Regions from separate parts of the Homo sapiens genome. Here region 2 is linked to region 1. The links come from fine-mapping of genetic effects on gene expression. A gene starts in region 1. The other region holds a variant in brackets. All regions are shown on one strand. Distances are from middle to middle.

What was found. PIP is the estimated chance that this variant, and not a neighbour inherited with it, causes the effect.
Region 2: its variant is the best candidate, but not a certain one, in a credible set for the expression of GAREM2 in atrial appendage (GTEx, PIP 0.70).

The regions. Positions count from the first base shown.
Region 1 is chr2:26,168,039-26,178,409 of GRCh38, reverse strand. It overlaps GAREM2 (GRB2 associated regulator of MAPK1 subtype 2), which reads right to left and starts at 5,322. Exons shown (of 6, transcript NM_001168241.2): 1 at 5,078-5,322; 2 at 1,926-2,066. The coding sequence starts at 5,189. RefSeq lists an enhancer at 2,322-2,860.
Region 2 is chr2:26,223,071-26,233,441 of GRCh38, reverse strand. It overlaps HADHA (hydroxyacyl-CoA dehydrogenase trifunctional multienzyme complex subunit alpha), which reads left to right. Exons shown (of 20, transcript NM_000182.5): 6 at 1,163-1,282; 7 at 3,148-3,250. Among named protein-coding and RNA genes, the nearest start is that of HADHA, 16 kb to the left of the region's middle. The variant G/A (reference allele first, on the strand shown) is at 4,611.

The DNA.
Region 1 (10,371 bases):
TGTTTGTTTTTGTTTTTGTTTGTTCTCGCTATGTTGCCCAGGCTGGCCTGGAACTCCTGGCCTCAAAGGAGCCTCCTGTCTCAGCAAAGCACTAGGATTACATATAAGAGCCACTGCTCAGGCAACTTTTGCTTTTTTTATCCCAAGAAGACCTGGGACCTCCCCCTGAACCAAGCTTGGAAATTTCTAGCTTGAGCAGGCCCCCAGTGGGCTCCAAGCCCAAGATAGAACCCCAGGTCAGAAAGAAATCTGAGTGAGTTTCCACATCTTTTAAGGGTTTGGGGGGTGGAGTACACAGGTACCAACTTCACAGGCTGTAAAAGACAGAAGCCTCTGTAAAGGGCTCAGTCCTGTCCTCCTGGCTCAGGGAGACCCAGGGCCAGAGGAGGCAGGGGTACCTGTGAAGAAGCAATGGGACCTTCCCAGCCTTGGTGAGGGGGTTGTCAGGAGCAGCTGGGCACAGCAGTTAAAAACACAGAACTGGGCTGGGTTTGGTGGCTGACACCTGTAATTCCAGCACTTTGGGAGGCCAAGGCGGCCGGATCACTTGAGGTCAGGAGTTTGAGACCAGCCTGGCCAACATGGTGAAACCCTGTCTCTACTAAAAATACAAAAATTAGCAGAGAGTGGTGGCAGGCACCTGTAATCCCAGCTACTTGGTAGGCCGAGGCAGGAGAATCCCTTGAACCTCGGAGGCAGTGAGCCAAGATGGCGCCTCTCCTCTCCAGCCTGAGCAACAGAAAACACACACACACACACAGAACTGGGCCTGGCCCAGTGACTCACACCTATAATCCCAGCACTCTGGGAGACTGAGGCAGGAGGCTTCATTGAGACCAGGAGTTTGAGACCATCCTGGGCAACATAAGGAGACCATCTCTAAAAACACAAAAAATGAAATAAAAAACATGGCACTGGGCAAGCCACTGAAACTCCTGGAGCCTCAGTTTCCTGGTGAGTTAAATGGAGTTGACAAGACTTTCTCATCAGGTTGCCATGAGGATGAAATGGCAAAAATGTTCGGCCCAGCATATGGCATGCAGCACATGCTTAACACATGGCAGATGTGGGATCCGGGGCTCACACGGGGACGTCTCTGGGATGGGGCCACCAGACTCCCATCCCTCCCACACAGGGGACAGCAACCACACGCTCCTGGTGTAGTGCAGCAGACACCAGCCCTCAGTTGAGATACCTGGATCTGGCCAGGCTCTTCCTTTCCTAGATGTGTGACACGGGGCAAGTCACCTCCTCCCCCAAGCCTTCCGTTTCATCATCTGTAAAAGGAAGGGGCTGTACTCTGTTTTGGTAACAGAATCCTTTCTTCAAACAAAATCTTATTATATGTCAACGTCACGTATAAAACTAATAAAGGTAGTCCATTAGCATAATCTTTAGAAGTCTAAAATTTTTAATATTCACTTATAAAGTCAACCAATGGAAACAATAGGTTTAACGCAAAAATTGGGAAAAACAGGATCAGCGCGGAGAGGTGCAGCCATGTAACCAGCTTGGGCATTCGCTGGTTTCTGCGGTATTTGGTTGCGCGGTACAGAAAAGGTCCTGGCAGGACATGTTCTCTTGGAGGGTCTGCACAAAGATGGCTAAGCGTGGCAGCCGAAGGTATACCCTGAAGGCCTCTGATTAGGGTTAAGCTCTGATGTGTAGTAATTTAAGAGTGTGGGTATTTTTTAATCATTAGTTTCAAATCTACTTTAAAATAAAATGTGAATCAAAAAACCTGTGAGCCACCTCTCCAGAAACCCAGAGTGCCACAGAACAGAATGAAAACTGCTGGGCTCTGACTCCAACCCTAACCCTAATCACCGCCTCGCTAGTCCCAGCGTTCCCCCTACCCCTGGCCCCAGTCCCTCCTGCCTACACCCCCCTACAGGCTTTATGACATCTGTCCTGGCTGGACACACCTGGGTACTGCAGGGGGATGTCGATCTTGGGCCCGATGACATAGTGGCCCTCCTCCAGGGTATGAGCTGTCACCGTTGTCCACTGCCGGCAGGAGTGGATGAGCAGGATGTCTCGCTCACTGACGCCCTCGGCGTACTCCCCTGGGAAGGGGGAGGAGGACAGAGGATGAGGGGAAGGAAGACAGGACATTAGAAGGGGCAGAAAGAACAGATAGTGACGTCCTCACCAAGACCGCCCCCCTGAGGGACAGCTCCACACAATCCCTGTCCAGGTCAGCAAAGCTCAAGGGACAGGCGGGCTGCCAGCTGGGGCCTGGGGCTGTGGGGCTGGCTGTGAGCCTCTCAGGGCTGTGACTCCCGACGGGGCCCCTCGTTCATCAGTGGCTGGAATGCCTGCTGTCCCTGGCTCTGAGCTGGAGCAGGGGGAGCTCCCCATGGATGAGCCCAGACCAGCCCCTGCCCTCCAGGAGCCCTTAGGCCCCTGGGGAGGTGGGCAGAGATGTACCAGAGACTAGGCAAGTTTGAGGCACTGACTGGAGTATGTCTGGGGACCCGGAGGGCAGCAGTAGGCTCCAGCTGGGGGTGTGGTGGCGAAGGGAGACTTTATTGAGCAGGAGATGCTGGAGCTGTGCTTCCCAGTCAGGGCCTAGGCCCTGCAAGAAGGGCCCTACTGGGGCAGTGGAGAGGGCCCGGACGGGACTGTCCCTTATAAGGTCCCAGCTGTGAGAGCTCCCCCAGAGCCACGGGTCGCTCAGGTCAGGAGAATGACAGGGCTTAGAGCAGCTGATTACTGCCTCTCCCAAGGGCAGCCCTTCCTTTCCACCCACTGCCTTGTTCAGGGGACCTCGAAGGAGAGGGGGGGAGTCCCCAGAAACCCCCAACCCCATCTCAGAGAAGCCACCCACTGCCTTGTCAAGGGGACCTCGAAGGAGAGGGGGGAGTCCCCAGAAACCCCCAACCCCATCTCAGAGAAGCAGCTCCTTGACACCCCCTCCCCACGCCCCCTCATCCTCCCAGTTACAGGGGTGACGGCTGAGGGTTGGAGGGGTTGAGAGAGCAGGTTTAGAAGGCAGGAGTGGGAGGCCCAGCCCTGGGGCCTGGGGGAAGCTGCTCTGGGGCAGAGGTGTTGGGAGTTGGGAGGGGTCTGGGCCTGGAGGCGCCAACCCCAGCAACGGTTTCCAGGGGAGCAGGAGGGGCAGCCCAGCTTCCAGGAGGCAGAAGGGGCTGTGTCCGGGCTGCAGCTGGTGGGGAGGGTGGGGGTAGGGAGTACCTCCTTCCTTTCTCCTTCAGGCACAACTTACAAAATTTCTGCCAATCAAATGGGAAATGGTTTACTCTGATGGCTGGGGGCTCCATAAAATGTGTACATGTGGGGTAGGCGTGTGTGTGTATGTGTGTGTGTGTGTGTGGCAGGGTGGCGGGCGGTTCAAGACGCACAGGAAGGGCCTGGCCCCCACTATGTGTGTGTTGGGGGTGTTGTCTAAGCTTTCCCCTGTACCTCCTCACCTCCGGGGGCCCAAGAAGCTCTCCTCCAACTCTGCTCCCTCCTCTGAGAGCTGTCCTGGGTCCTAGCCCCATCTTCACAGCCACATGGGCACACAGCAGTAATCATGGCTCATGACCACCAACAGCTGAACCACAATAGCCCACAGTGACAGATGCTTGTCACCCAAACAACATAACTCAGTCTCCGGCCAAGGGGCCCCTCCCAAATGCACAGGCACACAGGGACCTACCCTTCAAGCCATACAATTCTGACCAGACATTCACACCCTGATGGTGACCCAGCCATAGCCACACACTGTCACACACAACAGACAGCTGGGCCATCACACCAGTTGTTCATTCACTCACCCATTCATTCAATCCATAATCTTTATTGGGCAAGGATGCCTGGTCTCAAGGAGCCCACAGCCAGGTCTAAAGACAATAAACTGACTGACCATTATAATGGGGTGCACAGTAGGAGACAAGCCAGAGTTGGCATGAGGTGGCCGGGGAGCCCAAAGGAGGCCCTACGCAGACCGAGGAGCTCAGAAAAGCTGCCCAGAAAGGGGAGATGCCAAAAAGGATGTGTGGGAAGTGGCCAGAAGACCCCAGGGCAGCGACCTCCATTCACAGGCAGACACAGTACCACACTCTGACCACTCGGCCGCGAGCCAGAGAACTAGACGCTGGCCTGCCCGACGGCGGGGCGCCGATGCTCCCCCATGAGCCTGCTCCCGGGACAGCTGACGCCCACTGTGCCCACTCCTGGCCGCCACGGAGGAGGGGCTGCCGGGCCCCACGGGGAGACGAGGAGCCTGCGGCCGCGGGCCCCATTAGCATTCATGGAAGCGAGTGTGCCAACGCGGGCCAAACCCCTATTCTTCTCACACACAAAACCCCCGGCCTGGCTGCCAGCCCCGGCTACCGCCCATCCCCCAACCAAGCAGCACCCCCCTCCCCCCAAACGGTCCCCTCGCTCCATGCAGCCTCCGGGCGTACCCTCTCGGGCCCCCATGCGTGGTTCCATCAGCCGAGCGGCTGGGGGCCCCAGGTCCTATTAAGAAGTGGGACAAGATTCGGGGGAGGGCCGGGAGTTTGGGGGTCACGCCGGGCAGCAGACCCGGCTCCCGCCGGCCTCTCCCGAAGGTGGCCTGCCCGCCCCAGGACCGAGGCTGCTCCTAGGGAAGAGAAAGGAGGTGCAAGAAGGGTCCCCAGAGGGGCGGAGCAGGACTAGGGGTGGCGGTAAGGGGAAGACAGAGTCCGGGTCCCAGGGATGAGGGAAGACAGAGGTGAGAGGCCAGGGACAAAGGGACCAAGGGGGCGCGGCCGGGGCGGGGGGCCCAGGGGCAGCGGGGGAAAGGGGGGCAACCGACGGGGCGGGAGCAGGGGCTCGGCCCCTTTCCGGACTCCAGCTGGGCGGGAAAACTCTGTCCCGGGCCCTGTCCCCGGTGTCTGTGCCTGTGCTTGTCCGCGGGGCCCAGGAGGCGGACCTGGCGGGTGGGCCCCGCGTCTCCCGGGAGGCGCGCCAGGAACCGCTCGGGGCCCACGCCGGGGAGCTGGGAGGGTGCGGGTGCCGCACCCTCCTCACGATCCCTCTGGCCCCTGGCTGGAGAGCCCACCATTTCCCCGCGGACCCCGGTCCCCATCTCCAGCGACCCCGGTACCTGGCCCAAGGCAGGCGAGCGTGGGCAGGCGGCAGCGGCTGACGATGAGGTCGAGCGGGAAGGCGCCCATGCTCCAGCGCAGGCCGGCCAGCCCGGCCGCCAGCTTCTCCATGGCATGGGCGCCCCGGGGCCGCCGTCCCGGGGCCCCGACGGTCAGTCCCGCGCGGCCCAGGCTCTCGCGCCCGCCGCCACCTCCCGGGGCCGCCGCGGCGCTCGCCGCCTGGCAGCCCCGCCGGGCCGCGGGCGTCACGTGGCCGGCCTCCCCGCAGGGCGCCGACCCCGGCCCCGCCCCCGGGCCCCGCCCCCTCCTCCCGGACCCCGGCCCCCTCCTCCCGGACCCCCGCCCCCTGCTCTGTCCGCCCCGACCCGGACTCGCCGCCGGACCCACCCCCGGACCTCCGCCCCCAGCCCTGTCCGCCCTGCCCCGCCCCGGCCCCCTCTCCTCGGACCCCGTCCCCGCGCCCCCTTCTGGGACCCCGGGTCCCCAGCCCCGCGCTCCGTCCGCCCGCCCCTGCCCCCGCTCCCCGGCCCCCACCCGCCGCTGCCGCCAAGCCCCGCCTCCCCTCCCGCCAGCTTCCCCGCGCCCAGGTGACGGCGGGTGATGGAGGACCCCAGGGCGGGCGCCTGGAGGGACAACGAAGTCCCGAGCGGCATCTGCGGAGTCGGCGCGGGGTCGGCCTCCTCCTTCTGGCTGGGTGTGTCCGGGCCCCGCCGCTCCCCCTCGTGCTGGCCTCCCGGAGGCCGCGCCCACCCGCGCCCTGTCCTGCTCCGCCGCCCAAAGCTCGGGTTCTGAATTCTGCTCTTCCAGGACCTTCATCACCTCCGGCTCCGTGGAGCTGGGCGAGGCAGCCTCCTTAACCCCATTTTACTGATGAGCAAACTGAGGGGCAGAGGTCAGGTGGCAGCCAGGACTTCAACCTAGGTTGGACTTCAACCCAGATTTGACTCCAACCCTACTGCCCAAGAGCACCCTACAGCGCCCCACCATAGAGCACCTTCCACGTTCCCAGCGCCCCCTTAGCCGATAGCCCTGTGTCATGTAAACCGGCGCTCCAACCCTTCCACAGCACGCGGTGTGGACTGCGTCCATTCTGCAGATGAGGAGGCCGAGGTTCGAGGGCGTAACCGGTGCTGCGGTCTCCTCTCGGATCATTACAAGAACCGCCTTCCTCCCCCACCGCCACCATCCCTTCTCTCTTTTCCTTCTCTTTTTTTGAGACTGGGTCTCACTCTATCACCCAGCCTGGAGTGCAGTGGCGCGATCTCGGCTCACTGCAACCCCCACCTCCCGGGCTCAAGCGATCCTCCCACCTCAGCCTGCGGAGTAGCTGGGATGACAGGCACCTGCCACCACTCCTGGCTAATTTTTTTGTATTTTTAGTAGAGACGGCGTTTCACCATGTTGGCCAGGCTGGTCTTGAACTCCTGACCTCAAGCGATCCTCCCGACTCGGCCTCCCAAAGTGCTGGACTTACAGGCGTAAGCCACCGCGCCCAGCCTTCGTTCCCTTCTTTTAATTTGCGTTTCCTTTTCTGCTGTCCTCACCTCTTCCTTCCAAGCCCCCTGGACTCCAGCTCGGGGCCTCCCTTTGGGACCCCCTTCCCAGAAGCTTAGATGGCCTCGGCCTCGGCCTCGCCCTCTCTGTGTCTGCGGCGCCCTCTGCAGGTAATTGGGGGATGATGCGGGCCTGGCTGATCTCGCGGAGCCAGCGGGCCTTAGTCCCTAGGCTGCTCCCTCACGGGAGTGTAGTGGCACGATCTCGGCTCACTGCAACCTCCGCCCCGCAGGTTCAAGCAATTCTCCTGCCTCAGCTTCCTGAGTAGCTGGAATTACATATGTAGCTGGGATTACAGACAAGCACCACCATGCCCGGCTAATTTTTCACCTGGCTAATTTTTGTATTTTTAGTAGAGACAGGGTTTCGCCATGTTGGCCAGGCTGGTCTCGAACTCCGAACTCAAGTGATCCACCCGCCTCGATCCATCAGTCCTCAGCCTCGGTACCCCCGGAAGAACCCCACCAAATACAAACAAAACCCTCTCTTCTGAGGTGACTGACACCTGGCATCTTATGGCTCGAACCCCATGAGAAATGGCAGCCGACAAGATGAACACCACTTCTCAGCGAGAAGAGACGTTTTAGATCAGTGGTTCAATCCTCAACTGCTGCAGAGGAAAAAACTGAGACTCCAAGAGCAGAAATGCTTTGCTCTAAGGTCACACGGCAAGAAAGAGGCAGCGCTGCGACCAGAAGGCAGGACCCCCACCTACCAACTTGACCGAGGCCCTTCCCCAGCCTGGCCCAAACCCAGCCCGCTCACCCTGGCCAGGGAGGAGCTGCTCACCCCGGTGACTCAGGCAGCCCAGATGGACTCCGCTCTCCTGAGTCTGTAGGGGTGGGGTGGGTTCTTTCCCAGGGAAGTGGGAAGGTGAAGCCTGGCAGGAGAAGAAAAGAAAATACAGTGAAAATATAGGAGTCTTAAGAAGGGAATGGGCCAGGCGCGGTGGCTCACACCTGTAATCTCAACAGTTTGGCAGGCCAAGGCAGGTGGATCACTTGAGGTCAGGAGTTCGAGACCAGCCTGGCCAACATGGTGAAACCCTGTCTCTACTAAAAATACAAAAATTATCCAGGCAAAAAATTAGCCGGGCATGGTGGTGCTTGTCTGCCACTCCAGGTACATCTGTAATCCCAGCTACTCAGGAAGCTGAGGCAGGAGAATTGCTTGAACCTGGGAGGCGGAGGTTGCAGTGAGCCGAGATCGTGCCACTACACTCCAGCCTGGGTGACAGAGCGAAACTCCATCTCAAAAAAAAAAAAAAAGAAAAGAAGGGAATGGAAGGTCTGAGACAGGAGGGCGAAAAGGCCGGAAGAAGCAAGTGAATGAGAAGGGTGCTGCCTTAGATTCACTTTTCTTCCCCTACCCTGTAGGGTCTCTCTTTAGGGTGACCGTGTGTCATCCTAACTGGGAGACTTTTAAGAGGGAAGCCGGTACTAACCACCTCCCCACCCAGCTAGGACAACAGGTGCAGGTAGCCTGGGCTCCAGACAGCAGGTATAAACTGGCATTGAGCCACGTGGTCACCTTCTCCCTGCGCCCTGGACAGAGACGCCACATCTACGGTGGCTTCTCTTACTCAGCATGGCCGGCTCTCCTCAGCTCCCGACCTCAACTTCCAGCTCTACCCCTTCGCCCCCAAAAGGCGTTCACAGCCACTTCCATTTCCACAATCACACTTGAACCGGGTCCCCTTTTATTTTCTATCCCAGCTGAGGACATCTCCTTTACCCTGGTCTCCCAACCTGGAAATCTTCTCCCTAACCTTTATACCAAACTAGTCACCAAGTGCTGGCAATTCCTCTTCCACCAGGTGTCATGGAGCCCCAGCCTCCTCTTCCCAGGAGCTCCAGTCCCAGCCAGGCTTTCGTTCACAGTTTGGATCTTCTCTCCCCCAGGCAACCTGCCTATTTCACACCCAAAACCTATAACCCTGGATTTCGGCTGAGTTAGGGGCAACACCGCTGTGAGACACCAGGCAGATTCACCTAACTAAATGGACCCACCTCCTCACTGTTGCAGAATATTCCAGAGCCTTTCCAGGGCTTCTTAACTGTTGTCAAGTCTCCAGGGACCTGACACAAGTGTCCAGACACATACATCACTTGATTTGCTGAGGCTCAGGAGTCCTGCAGGAAGGAACTCAGCTTCTCTTGGAGGCAGAAATGTTTAGATCTTTCCTTGGACTGAGATTGCAGGAAGGAGAGCCAAGAGGGCACCAAGAGGGAGGAAGATGCTGGGCAGAGAGGCCAGGCTGTGTGGCTTGGTGTGGCCGTGGGAGAATCTGGGGCCTAGGTGCTGTGTGTGGCTGGGCCTGTGCTTCCCGCTCCAGGAGAGTCAGCTGGGGGAAAGAGAGGGAGGAGGAACAGAAGAAAGAGCCCAGCCAAGGGGATCCCAGCTCCTCTGCAGTGGGCTCCACTCTGACAGCGCTGGCAGTGACAAGTAGAAGGTGGAGCCTGGCCCAGCATAGTATCCCACCACTATGGGAGGCTGAGGCGGGCAGATCACTTGAGCCCAGGAGTTTGAGACTAGGCCGGCAACATAGTGAAACTCTGTCTCTACAAAAAATACAAAAACTAGCCAGGCATGGTGGTGTGCTCCTGTGGTCCCAACTACTCGGGAGGCGGAGGCAGGAGGATCACTTGAGCCCAGGAGGTTGAGGCTGCAATGAGCTGTGATCATGCCACTGCACTCCAGCCTGGGTGATGGGGCAAGACACTGTCTCAAAAATAAAAAAAATTTTAAGAAGGAGAGCCCTATTGGCTGGAGGGGAGGAAAAAGTAGGGAGGGGTCACAGCCCTACCAGAGGCCCAGTGTTGACCCAGAGGCCAGGCTGTGGCAGAGGCTGGCCAGGCTGCCCGTGAGCGGAGCATAGAGGTCAATGGAGTAGAGGCAGGGAAAGCTGCCCACAGCAGCTAGGGTTATTATTTATAAAGTACCCTGCCCCACCCCATCTAGAGGACAGATGGCCTTTTCTGGGATCATGAACTGGGCGAGGCCAGGAAACATTTAGGAAAGCACCTATGAGAAATTTAGGTAATATTGTATTTAACTTTTTATTTCAGAACATTCTAAATGTAGACACAACTAGAGATAATAGCATGTGACTTCCCGTGTGCTCATCTTCCAGCTTTAGCACCTACCAACCCACGGCTGATCTGATTTTTGTGTACCTGCTTACAACCCTTCCTCACTGGATAAAAAAAAAAAAGTTTTCTTTTTTTTTTTTTTTTCATTTTAGAGACAGGGTCTTCCCTCCGTCACCCATCTTGGAGTGTTAAAAACAACTTTATTGAAATATAATTCACATACTATACAATTCACCCATCTAAAGTTTACCATTTAGTGTTTTTAGTATTCATCGTATCTTGCAAACATCATTACAATCTAGTTTTCTTTTTGTTTTTCTATTTTATTTTTGAGACAGTCTTACCATGTCACCCTGGCTAGAGTACAATGGCACAATCTCAGCTCACTGCGACCTCTGCCTCCCAGGTTCAAGCCTCAGCCTCCCAAGTAGCTGGGATTACAGGTGCCCACCACCATGCCTGGCTAATTTTTGTATTATTTAGTAGAGACAGGGTTTCACCATGTTGGCCAGGCTGGTCTTGAACCCCTACCTCAGGTGATCTGCCTGCCTCGGCCTCCCAAAGTGCTGGGATTACAGGCGTGAGCCACCGCACCTGGCCTTTCTTTGTATTTTTTAAAAGAGGGTCTTACTATACTTCCCAGGCTG
Region 2 (10,371 bases), 55 kb before region 1:
ATGCTGAACTCTGTGCCAGACACTTTCACATATGCAGTCATTTACCACATAACGTTTCAATGACCAATTGCACATACAGCAGTGGTTCTATAAGACTGTAACACTACATTTTTCTATACCTTTTCTGTGTTTAGATACAGAAATGCTTATCACTGTGCCACAGTTGCCTACAGTATTCAATAGTCACATGCAGTCCAGGTTTGTAGCCCCTTAGGACAGGGGTCCCCAGTTCCCAGGCCATAGCCTGTTAGGAACTGGGCCCCACAGCAGGAGGTGAGCAGTGGGCGAGTGAACATTACCACCTGAGTTCCGCCTCCTGTCATATCAACAGTGGCATTAGATTCTCATAAGAGCTGGAACCCTGTTGTGAACTGCACATGAGAGGGATCCAGGTTGCGCACTCCATTGGCCTCTATTGCCTGATGATTTGAAGTGGAACAGTTTCATCCTGAAACCACTCCCTCCCACCCCACCCCCAGTTCTTGGAAAAATTGCCTTTCACAAAACCTGTCCCTGGCGTCAAAAAGGTTGGGGACTGCTGGACTAGGAGCAATAGGCTATCCCATATAGCCTAGATGTGTAGCAGGCTCTGCCATCTGGGTTTGTGTAAGTACACTCTGCGATGTTCACACAACAACAAAATTTCCTAATGGTACATTTCTCAGAACATATCCCCCTCATTATGTGACACATGACTATATTAATTAAGAAAACCTGTGCCTGGTCCTAAACTATAAGCAGAATTTGATTAACCAGAATATGGAGGGAAAAACAATTCCGCATATGGTATGGTGTGAGCAAAGGCAAAAGCAAAGCCAACTAGGACACTGTAAGTAGACGTGCTTGATTGGAGAGTCCGGGGCTTTTTAACCTGGGGTCCATATAAAATTGTGTGTGCATTTTTCTCTTGAGAGCTTCTCTAGCTTTCAGTAGATTTTTTAGGAGATCTACGGCCCAAAAAGAGGTTAGTAAATTAGAGGAAAAGTATGAAAAAAAGGCTAAAAAGGTAAATTCTAGAAATTATTAAATGCCAGCCTAAGGAATTTCAGTTTATTCTGTGAGCACATTCCTGCTTTATAAATAATCTTTAGACCCTTATCCATCTCAAGTTGCTACTAAGTTACATTTTCTAACATTCTAATTTTCTTTCATTTGTTCAAAGGTTGCCATTTCATGCCAATACAGAATAGCAACAAAAGACAGAAAAACAGTATTAGGTACCCCTGAAGTTTTGCTGGGGGCCTTACCAGGAGCAGGAGGCACACAAAGGCTGCCCAAAATGGTGAGTCTAACATCCCCTTTGTGAAGCTATATGCCCTCTTTAGATCTGTTTTCTTGTATAAAATGCATAATATGGGCATTCATTGTAGAATTAAAAAACCAAATAAAATATGAGTGTACAGGATCAGTGACAGACTTTATTCCTGGTACTTATTTTTTCAATTCCACAGATTTTTTTTTTTTTTTTTTTTTGAGACAAAATCTTGCTCTGTAGCCCAGGCTAGAGTGCAGTGGTGTGATCTCAGCTCACTGCAACCTTCTCCTCCCAGGTTCAAGCGATTCTCCTGCCTCAGCCTCCCCAGTAGCTGGAATTACAGGCGTGCACCACTGCACCCAGCTAATTTTTTATATTTTTTAGTAGAGATGGAGTTTCGCCATGTTGGCCAGGCTGGTCTTGAACTCCCGACCTCAGGTAATCCTCCCGCCTCAGCCTCCCAAAGTGCTAGGACTACAGGCATGAACCACCATGCCTGGCCTAATTCCACAGAATTATTGATCAAGGTCCTTTGTTAGTCTCTGAGGAAGGATAAAGATAACTAAGATGCATGTCTTGCATTTCTGGAGCTTATGGTTTAATTGGTTCCTTTTCCACATAATACCATCTTAACAGTTTTTCAAAACCATGAGTCATATTAATATTTCATTACAAATATAAGAGGCAGACCTTTTCCCTCATTGTCTGATTTGGATGTTCTCACTGCTGTGTTGTATGGAACCAAAAGAGGCTCAGCAGGCTTTGAATTCCAAGGAGAAGGGAAGGACAGTCAGACCTGGATGCTGCAGAGCAATCTTAATGTCAACTCAAGGGCCCACTGAACCTTATAGCTTCTGGCACTGTAGATTCCTCAGTGAAAACAAGGCTCAACAGAAATACTCTTTGCAGGGAAGTTGATCTCAATTGAGCACAAAAGAAAACAAGGTTTATGGTGTTAATTTTCTAATAATAATAATGTGCTTTCCTTCATAGGAATGTCATAAGGATTTATTGAAAGAATGAATATGCATATATGTGTATCAAAAATATTTGCTGAGTTTCTTTCTTTCTTCTTTTTTTTTTCTTAAACTATAGCTGGTATTTGAATGTTGCTAGAAGCCTTTCTTCTAGTATGCCATATAAGCAGCCCTAGCTGAGTTCTATTTTTGTTAAGCTTAAAATTCTTTTTAAAGACTTTGTCAAAACTATCAGGTTTCTCACAGTCTTCTCTAGTTTCAATATGAGAATTTTATTTTATTTTATTTTTGGGACAGAGTCACTTTTGTTGTTCAGGCTGGAGTACAGTGGCATGATCTCGGCTCACTGCAACCTCTGCCTCCGGATTCAAGCAATTCTTGTGCCTCAGCCTCCCAAGTAGCTGGAATGACAGGTGTGCCCCACCATGCCCAGCTAATTTTTTGTATTTTTAGTAAAGACAGGGTTTCACCATGTCGGGCCAGGCTGGTCTCAAACTCCTAACCTCAGGTGACCCGCCTGCCTTGGCCTCCCAAAGTGCTGGAATTACAGGTGTGAGCCACCGTGCCTGGCCAGAATTTTACATATTATATATATGATAGAAAAAAACCCCTCAGAATAACAGAAATGTACAATTTTAGGAAACATGAAATTCTTTACCTTATTAGTATAAGAATCCTATATATTGAATTAAGAGATAAAGACATTTTTGCTTCAGCTAGAGGTATCTAATCCCCAAAGTTACCCAAGTGTATATCAGTATATTAAATATAACTTATCTATGCTGTTGACAAATAGCATAAACATATGGCTTGACTTTTCTCATTTTAATATTTGTTCATTTGATGATTTGTAAACTATATAATTATCACCCTGATTTTTTTCCCCCTATATTCTCATCCTTGCTTGCCTGTTAGGTGGGTGTGCCTGCTGCTTTGGACATGATGCTGACTGGTAGAAGCATTCGTGCAGACAGGGCAAAGAAAATGGGACTGGTTGACCAACTGGTGGAACCCCTGGGTAAGTGTTAGCACATCTCAGAGTCAGACCTTATAAAGTTACTTATTTTCTTAAAGAGTTAACCTCTTAGGCCAGGCACGGTGGCTCACACCTGTAATCCCAGCACTTTGGGAGGCTGAGGCGGGAAGATCACTTGAGGTCAGGAGTTTGAGACCAGCCTTGCCAACATGGCGAAACCCTGTCTCCACTAAAAATGATTAGCCGGGTGTGGTGGTGCAAACCTGTAGTTCCAGCTACTTGGGAGGCTGAGGCAGGAGGATCGCTTGAACCTGGCGGGGCTGAGGTTGCAGTGAGCCAAGATCATGCCATTGTGCTCCAGCCTGGGCAACAGAGCCAGACTCCCATCTCAAAAGAAAAAACAGTTAACCTCTTGAATATCACAGGAAGCACAGAGAGAAGCTCAAACTCTTAAGAAATGAGTCATTATTCTAAGGAAGGAAGTTTTATAAAATAGCTAATACTAAATCATTTTCAACATCACCCTGATTTTTATTTTGCTTTATAATTAGAACATTAGGAGTACAGAATTCAGTCAAGTCATTATTTTTGGTTCTTAAATTACCTGTATCATTATCCATGCATAACCTTCCTTCAGTTTCTTGTGTCTGTTTTAGTAATATAATAAATGAAACAACCAACCTGAGAATATTAACAATAATTGATATCTACTGATGGGCTACTTCCTCCCATTCAGTTTCTTTGCCTCCCTTTATCCAAAGAAGCCACTATTCTGACTTGTGTGTTCATTACCCTCTTATATTTATTGAAAATCAGCATTATTGAGATATTACTTACATAATAGTAAATGTATTAATTTTGTGTGTGTGTGTGTGTGTGTGTGTGCGCGCGCACACATGTTGGGGTCTCACTCTGTTGCTCAGACTGGAATATGGTGGTGTGAATATAGCTTGTTGCAACCTCAACTTTTTGGGCTCAAATGATCTTCCCACTTGTGCCCCCCGAGTAGCTGAGACCACAGGCATACGCTGCTACACCAGCTAATTTTTTATTTTTTGTAGAAACGAGATCTCACTCTGTTTTCCAGGCTAGTCTCAAACTCCGGGCTCAAGTAATCCTCCTCCCTCAGCCACCCAAAGTGCCGAGATTTACAGGTGTGAGCCACTGTGTCTGGTGAAATTGACCAACTTTTAATGTATAATTTGAGTTTTGAAAATGTATATAGCTGTGTAAACACTGCCACAATCCAAAAATAGCCGTGCATGGTGGCTCACACCTGTAATCATAGCATTTTGGGAGGCTGAGGTGGGAGAATTGCTTGAGGCCTGGAATTCAAGACCAGCCTGGACAACAGAGCAAGATCCTATCTCTTAAAAAAGAATTTTTTTTTTTCAATTAGCTG[G/A]GTATCATAGTGTATACCTGTAGTCCCAGCTAGTCAGGAGGCTGAGACAGGAATATTGTTTGAGCCCAGAAGTTCAAGGCTGTAGTGAGCTATGATCACACCACTGCACTCCAGCCTGAGCAACAGAGTGAGATGCCATCTTTTAAACAAAAATTTTTAAACATTTCTGGTATGTAGTTTGTTTTAATCTTCGTTCACTTAGCATAATGCTTTTGAGATGCATCCATACTGTTGCATATATCAGCAGTTTGTCCTTATTGCTGAGTGTTACTCCATTGTAGAAATGTACCATAGTTTGTTTATCCGTTCACCAAATGATGAGCATTTGAGTTGTTTCTAATTTAGGGCTATTCTGAATAAAGCTGCTATGAACATTCATCTTTAAGTCTTTATGTGGGCGTGACTGGGCGTGGTGGCTCAAGCCTCTAATCCCAGCACTTTGGGAGGCTGAGGCAGGCTGATCACCTGAGGTCAGGAATTCAACACCAGCCTGACCAACATGGCGAAACCCCATCTCTACTAAAAATACAAAAATTAGCTGGGTGTAGTGGTGTGCACCTGTGGTCCCAGCTACTTGGGAGGCTAAGGTAGGAGAATCACTTGAACCCAGGAGGTGGAGGTTGCCGTGAGCCAAGATTGTGCCACTGCACTCCAGCCTGGGTGACAGAGCGAGACTCTGTCTCAAAAAAAAAAAAAGTCTTTATGTGGACAAATGTTTCATTTCTGTTGGGTAAGTACTGAAGAGTGGATTGGCTAGTCCATATAACAGATATATATTAGCTTTTGAAAAAAAAAGTTTGGCCTGAGCAACATAGCAAGACTCTGTCTCAACAAAATAAAAAGTTTTAACTAGTTGGGTGTGGTGGCACATGCCTGTAGTCCTGGCTACTAGGGAGGCTGAGGCAGGAGGATTGCTTGAACCCAGGAGTTTGAAGTCACATGGAGCTATGATCAGGCCACTGCACTCCAGCCTGGGTGAGAGAGGGAGACCTTATCTCTGGGAAGAAAAAAAAAAAATTTAGAGATGAGACTTTGAGTCTTGCTCTGTCACCCAGGCTGGCCTCAGACTCCTGGGCTCAAGCAGTCTTCCTGCCTCAGCCTCCCAAGAAGCCGGGATTACGAGGCATATGCCACTAGTATTTGCTAGGTATGTGTTTGCTTTTCTGTCAGACTGTTTTCCCAAAGTGGTTATACTCTTTTGCATTCCCACCAGCAGTGTATGAGAGTTCTAGGTACCAACCACTTTGCATGGTCAATCTTTTTAATTTTAGACATTCTAACAGGAATGTAGTAACAGTTCTTTTTTCTTTTTTTTTTTTTGAGACAAAGTCTCGCTCTGTTGCCCAGGCTGGAGTGCAGTGGAACAATTTTGGCTCACTGCAACCTCTGCCTGCCAGGTTCAAGCGATTCTCCTGCCTCAGCGTCCCAAGTAGCTGGGACTACAGGCGCCCACCACCATGTCCAACTAATTTTTGTATTTTTAGTAGAGATCGGGTTTTACCATGTTGTCAGGGCTGGTCTCAAACTCCTGACCTCAAGTTATCCCCCTGCCTTGGCCTCCCAAAGTGCTGAGATTACAGGCGTGTGCCACCACACCCAGCTGGAATTAGTCATATTTCATTGTGGTTTTTATATTACCCTAATTACCAAAGATATTGAATATCTGTATATCTTATTTGATAAAGAAGCATCTGTTCAAATTTTTTGCCCATTTTCTTGGACTGAGTGTTTTTCCTATTATCGAGTTTTCAGAGTTCTTTATATATTAGGATATGAGTCCTTTATCAAATATATGATTTGCAAATATTTCCTCACAGTCTCTGGCTTATCTTTTCACTATATAAGAGCAGAAATTCTTAATTTTAATGAAGTCTGGTTTATCAAGTTTCTCTTTTATGGATCATGCTATTAGTGTGGTATCTAAAAAATATTTCTCTAACTCAAGATCACTAAGTTTTCCTGTATACTTTCTTCTAGAAATTTTCTAGTTTTAGCTCTTACATTTTGGTCTGTGATCCATTTGGAGTATTTATGGATCATGCTATTAGTGTGGGATCTAAAAAGTATTTTTCTAACTCAATATCACTAAGATGTTCCTGTATACTTTCTTCTAGAAATTTTCTAGTTTTAGCTCTTACATTTTGGTCTGTGATTCATTTCAAGTTTGTATATGGTGTGAGGTAAGGATTGAGGGCCTTTTCTTCCCTTTTTGCATATGAATATCCAAATGTCCTGGCACCATTTGTTGAGAAGACTACTATTTCCTCAGTGAACTACTTTGATCCCTTGATCAAAAATCAACTGACCTTATCTGTTTGGGCCAATTGGATTTCCTATTCCTAGTTATCTATATGTCTTTTTGTTAAACCAATACCACACTGTCTTGATTATTGTATTTTTATAGGGAATCCTGAAATTAAGCAGTATGAGTCCTCCAACTCAGGTCCCTTCTTTCAAAATTATTTTGCTCATACTAGTTCCTTTGCATTTGTGTACAAATTTTATAATCATTTTGTCCATATCTACAAAAATACCTGCTAGGATTTTTATTGGAATTGCATTGAGTCAGTATATAAATTTGGGGAGAATTGACAGCTTAAAAATATTGAGTCATTTCATCCATGAACATGGTAAAGTTCTCTGTTTATTTAGGTCTTTAAATTTCTCTCAGCAGTGTTTGGTACTTTTCAGTGAATAGATCTTGAACACATTTTGTTAAATTTATGCCTAGGTATTTCATACTTGTAGGCTGTTTTACTTTTTTAACTTTAATTTCTCACTAGAATATAGAAATACAAAGATTTTTGGACATGGACCTTGTATCTTGTGGTTTAGCTAAATTCATTTACTAGTTCTAGTAGCCTTTTTTATTAATAGATTCCTGAGGATTTTCTACATAGATAATTATGTTGTCTGTAAGTAAAGACAGTTTGACTTCTTTCTTTCCAATATAGATGTCATTTGTTTCTTTTTCTTGACTTACCACAATGTCTAAGACCTTTGTACAATACTGGATAGAAGTCATGAGAACAAGTATTGTCAACTTGTTCCCAGTCTTAGGAGGAAAGCATTCAGTATTAAGTATGATGTTAGTTGTAGGTTTTTCATATGTGCTCTTTATCAGGTTTGCTGAGAATGAGTATTGAATTTTGTCATGCCTTTTCTCCATCTACAGAGATAATTGTGGGGTTTTCTTCTTTTTTAGTCTATTAATAATGTCAGTCACATTGATTTTTGAATATTGAACTAGCCTTGCTTCTTGGAATAAACTCCATTTTGTTGTCATATATTATAAAGGATTTTTATGTCATCATGAGGGATAAAGTCTCAAGGATAATTTTCTTATGATATTTTTGCGTGGTGTTGGCATCAGGATAATGCTGGCTTCATAAAATGAATTGAGAAGTGTTCTCTCCTCTTTTTTTTTTTTTTTTGAGATGGAGTCTCACCCTGTCGCCAGGCTGGAGTGGTGCAGTGGCGAGATCTTGGGCTAATTTTTGTATTTTTAGTAGAAACAGTGTTTCATCATGTTGGCCAGGATGGTCTCAATCTTCTGACCTCATGATCCACCTACCTGCCTCAGCCTCCCAAAGTGCTGGGATTACAGGTGTGAGCCACTGTGCCTGGCCTCCTCTTATATTTTCTGGAAGATTTTATGTAGAGTTGGTATTATTTCTTAAATACTTGATAGAATTAACCAGTAATTCCTGGGCTCCTAGTTTTCTTTGTTGGGAAAATTTTTACTTATGAATTCAATTAATAGATATAGGGCTATTCAGGTTCTCCATTCTAGAGTAAGCTACGATAGTAGTTTGTGTCTTTCAAATAATTTGTTCATCTATTAACAATTTGCCAAATTTATTGCAATAAAGCTGTTCATAATACTTGTCATTTTAATGTTTTTATACTCTATACTGATGTCTCCTCATTCATTCCTGATATTGATAGTTTATCAGCTGATAGGACTTTAATCACTTATAAAATACCTTCATAGTAACATCTAGGTTAATGTTTATTGAATAACTGGGCTGTAGCCTAGCCAAGTTAACATATCTGAAGACTATCATACTCCACCCCTTGTCTGTTTGACACCCATACACATCTCCTAAAGCCATACATAGTCTTCAAATAAAGGCAATGACAGGAGTCATACTTTATCCTGACATAATGCAATTCTCCTTTATACAACCAAAAATACACTAATCCTTTCCCTAGAAGAGGATGCAGAGTCCTTGGGTGAAATTCACTCTTCTCTCATATTCTGTAACATAAATGCTATGATATAAAGTTAACCATTATGGATACATCTTATATTAGATGATAAGGAGATAGAGAAGAAACACAAATATTTGGTTAATTATATATATTCATAACAAAATAAGAAATCCTCATAAATAGTACAGTATTCATTACTGTATTCAGAAATGAATATTTATAATATTTCCAGATCAGTATTCAGCTGATGTGGAAAGAGAACTGAGCTATCAAATATCAGAGTAAATAATTAAACAACCCAAAAGGAAAGTAACAGTGGAGCCTTTATTCACTTACTTTGATAGTTTACACAAAAGGCTAAAAACCAAAGAAAGTGCCAGCTCCTTTTTCCCCCCAGTACCGTTTTCCCCATGGAATGGTACACTGGTTGAGGATCTGGTAGATTAGCATACAAGTGGGGGACATCTCACTGTTGTGAAAGCCCTGAACAAAAGGTTCCTGCGGCTTTATGGACCCTGGGTGAGGAGAGTGGAGTAGACTGGGAGAAGTGTCTTTAAGATTTCCCATTCCGGCCAGGTGCAGTGGCTCATGCCTGTAATACCAGCACTTTGGGAGGCCAAGGCGGGCAGATCACCTGAGGTCAGGAGTTCGAGACCAGCCTGGCCAATATGGCAAAACCTCATCTCCACTAAAAATACGAAAATTAGCCAGGCGTGGTGGTACATGCCTGCATTCCCAGCTACTCAGGAGGCTGAGGCAGGAGAATCACTTGAACCCGGGAGGCAGAGGTTGCAGTGAGCCGAGATTGTACCATTGCACTCCAGCCTGGGCGACAGAGTGAAACTCCATCTCAAAAAAATAAATAAATAAATAAAAGATTTCCCCTTCCTCCTTTGACAAGGTCTCAGCAGAGGCACCTGAAGAAGGCCTCAGCCAAAGTCCCCATATAAAAAGACCTAGGAATAGAAGGCATCTAGGCTAGGAATGCACATTTGTGTAAGAGCTTAGCCAGCCCCAGAGACCCAAGTCCTTGACTGCAGCTCCCTCAGATGACACCGCAGTGCACTGGCTGTGTACCAGGTTTGGTGTGGAAAGGGTGATATTTCTACTCCCCTTTTCATATTCCCTTTGCCCTCAGGAAGTACCTCAGTTTGTCCTAGTTCTTTGCCTGGTGGGGTGACCTTCATTCCTAAAATGTCTTCTAGGCCACTAGCAGTCCCATGTGAACTGGGTTGTGATCTTCTACTGACTAATTAGAGGTCATGTTAGTACTAAGGGACACCCTAAGAGATCTGCCACATTTGAGACATACTCTTCCTTACCTCTGTTGTATAGTAGCAACCTAATATCCCCTTGGTAATCAGGATTAATCACCCCAGCCAGTACAGTACCCGCCCTCTGCTGCCTGTTGATTCCAAGGCATGAGGAGCCCAAAGTGGCCAGATGGCAGTTTTAACTAACAGTTCAGTAGAATCATTGTTGTGTCTCCTGGTGGAAGCATTCCTCCCTTTGGAACTGAGCCCTCTAGACAGGCAGAGCCCAAAGT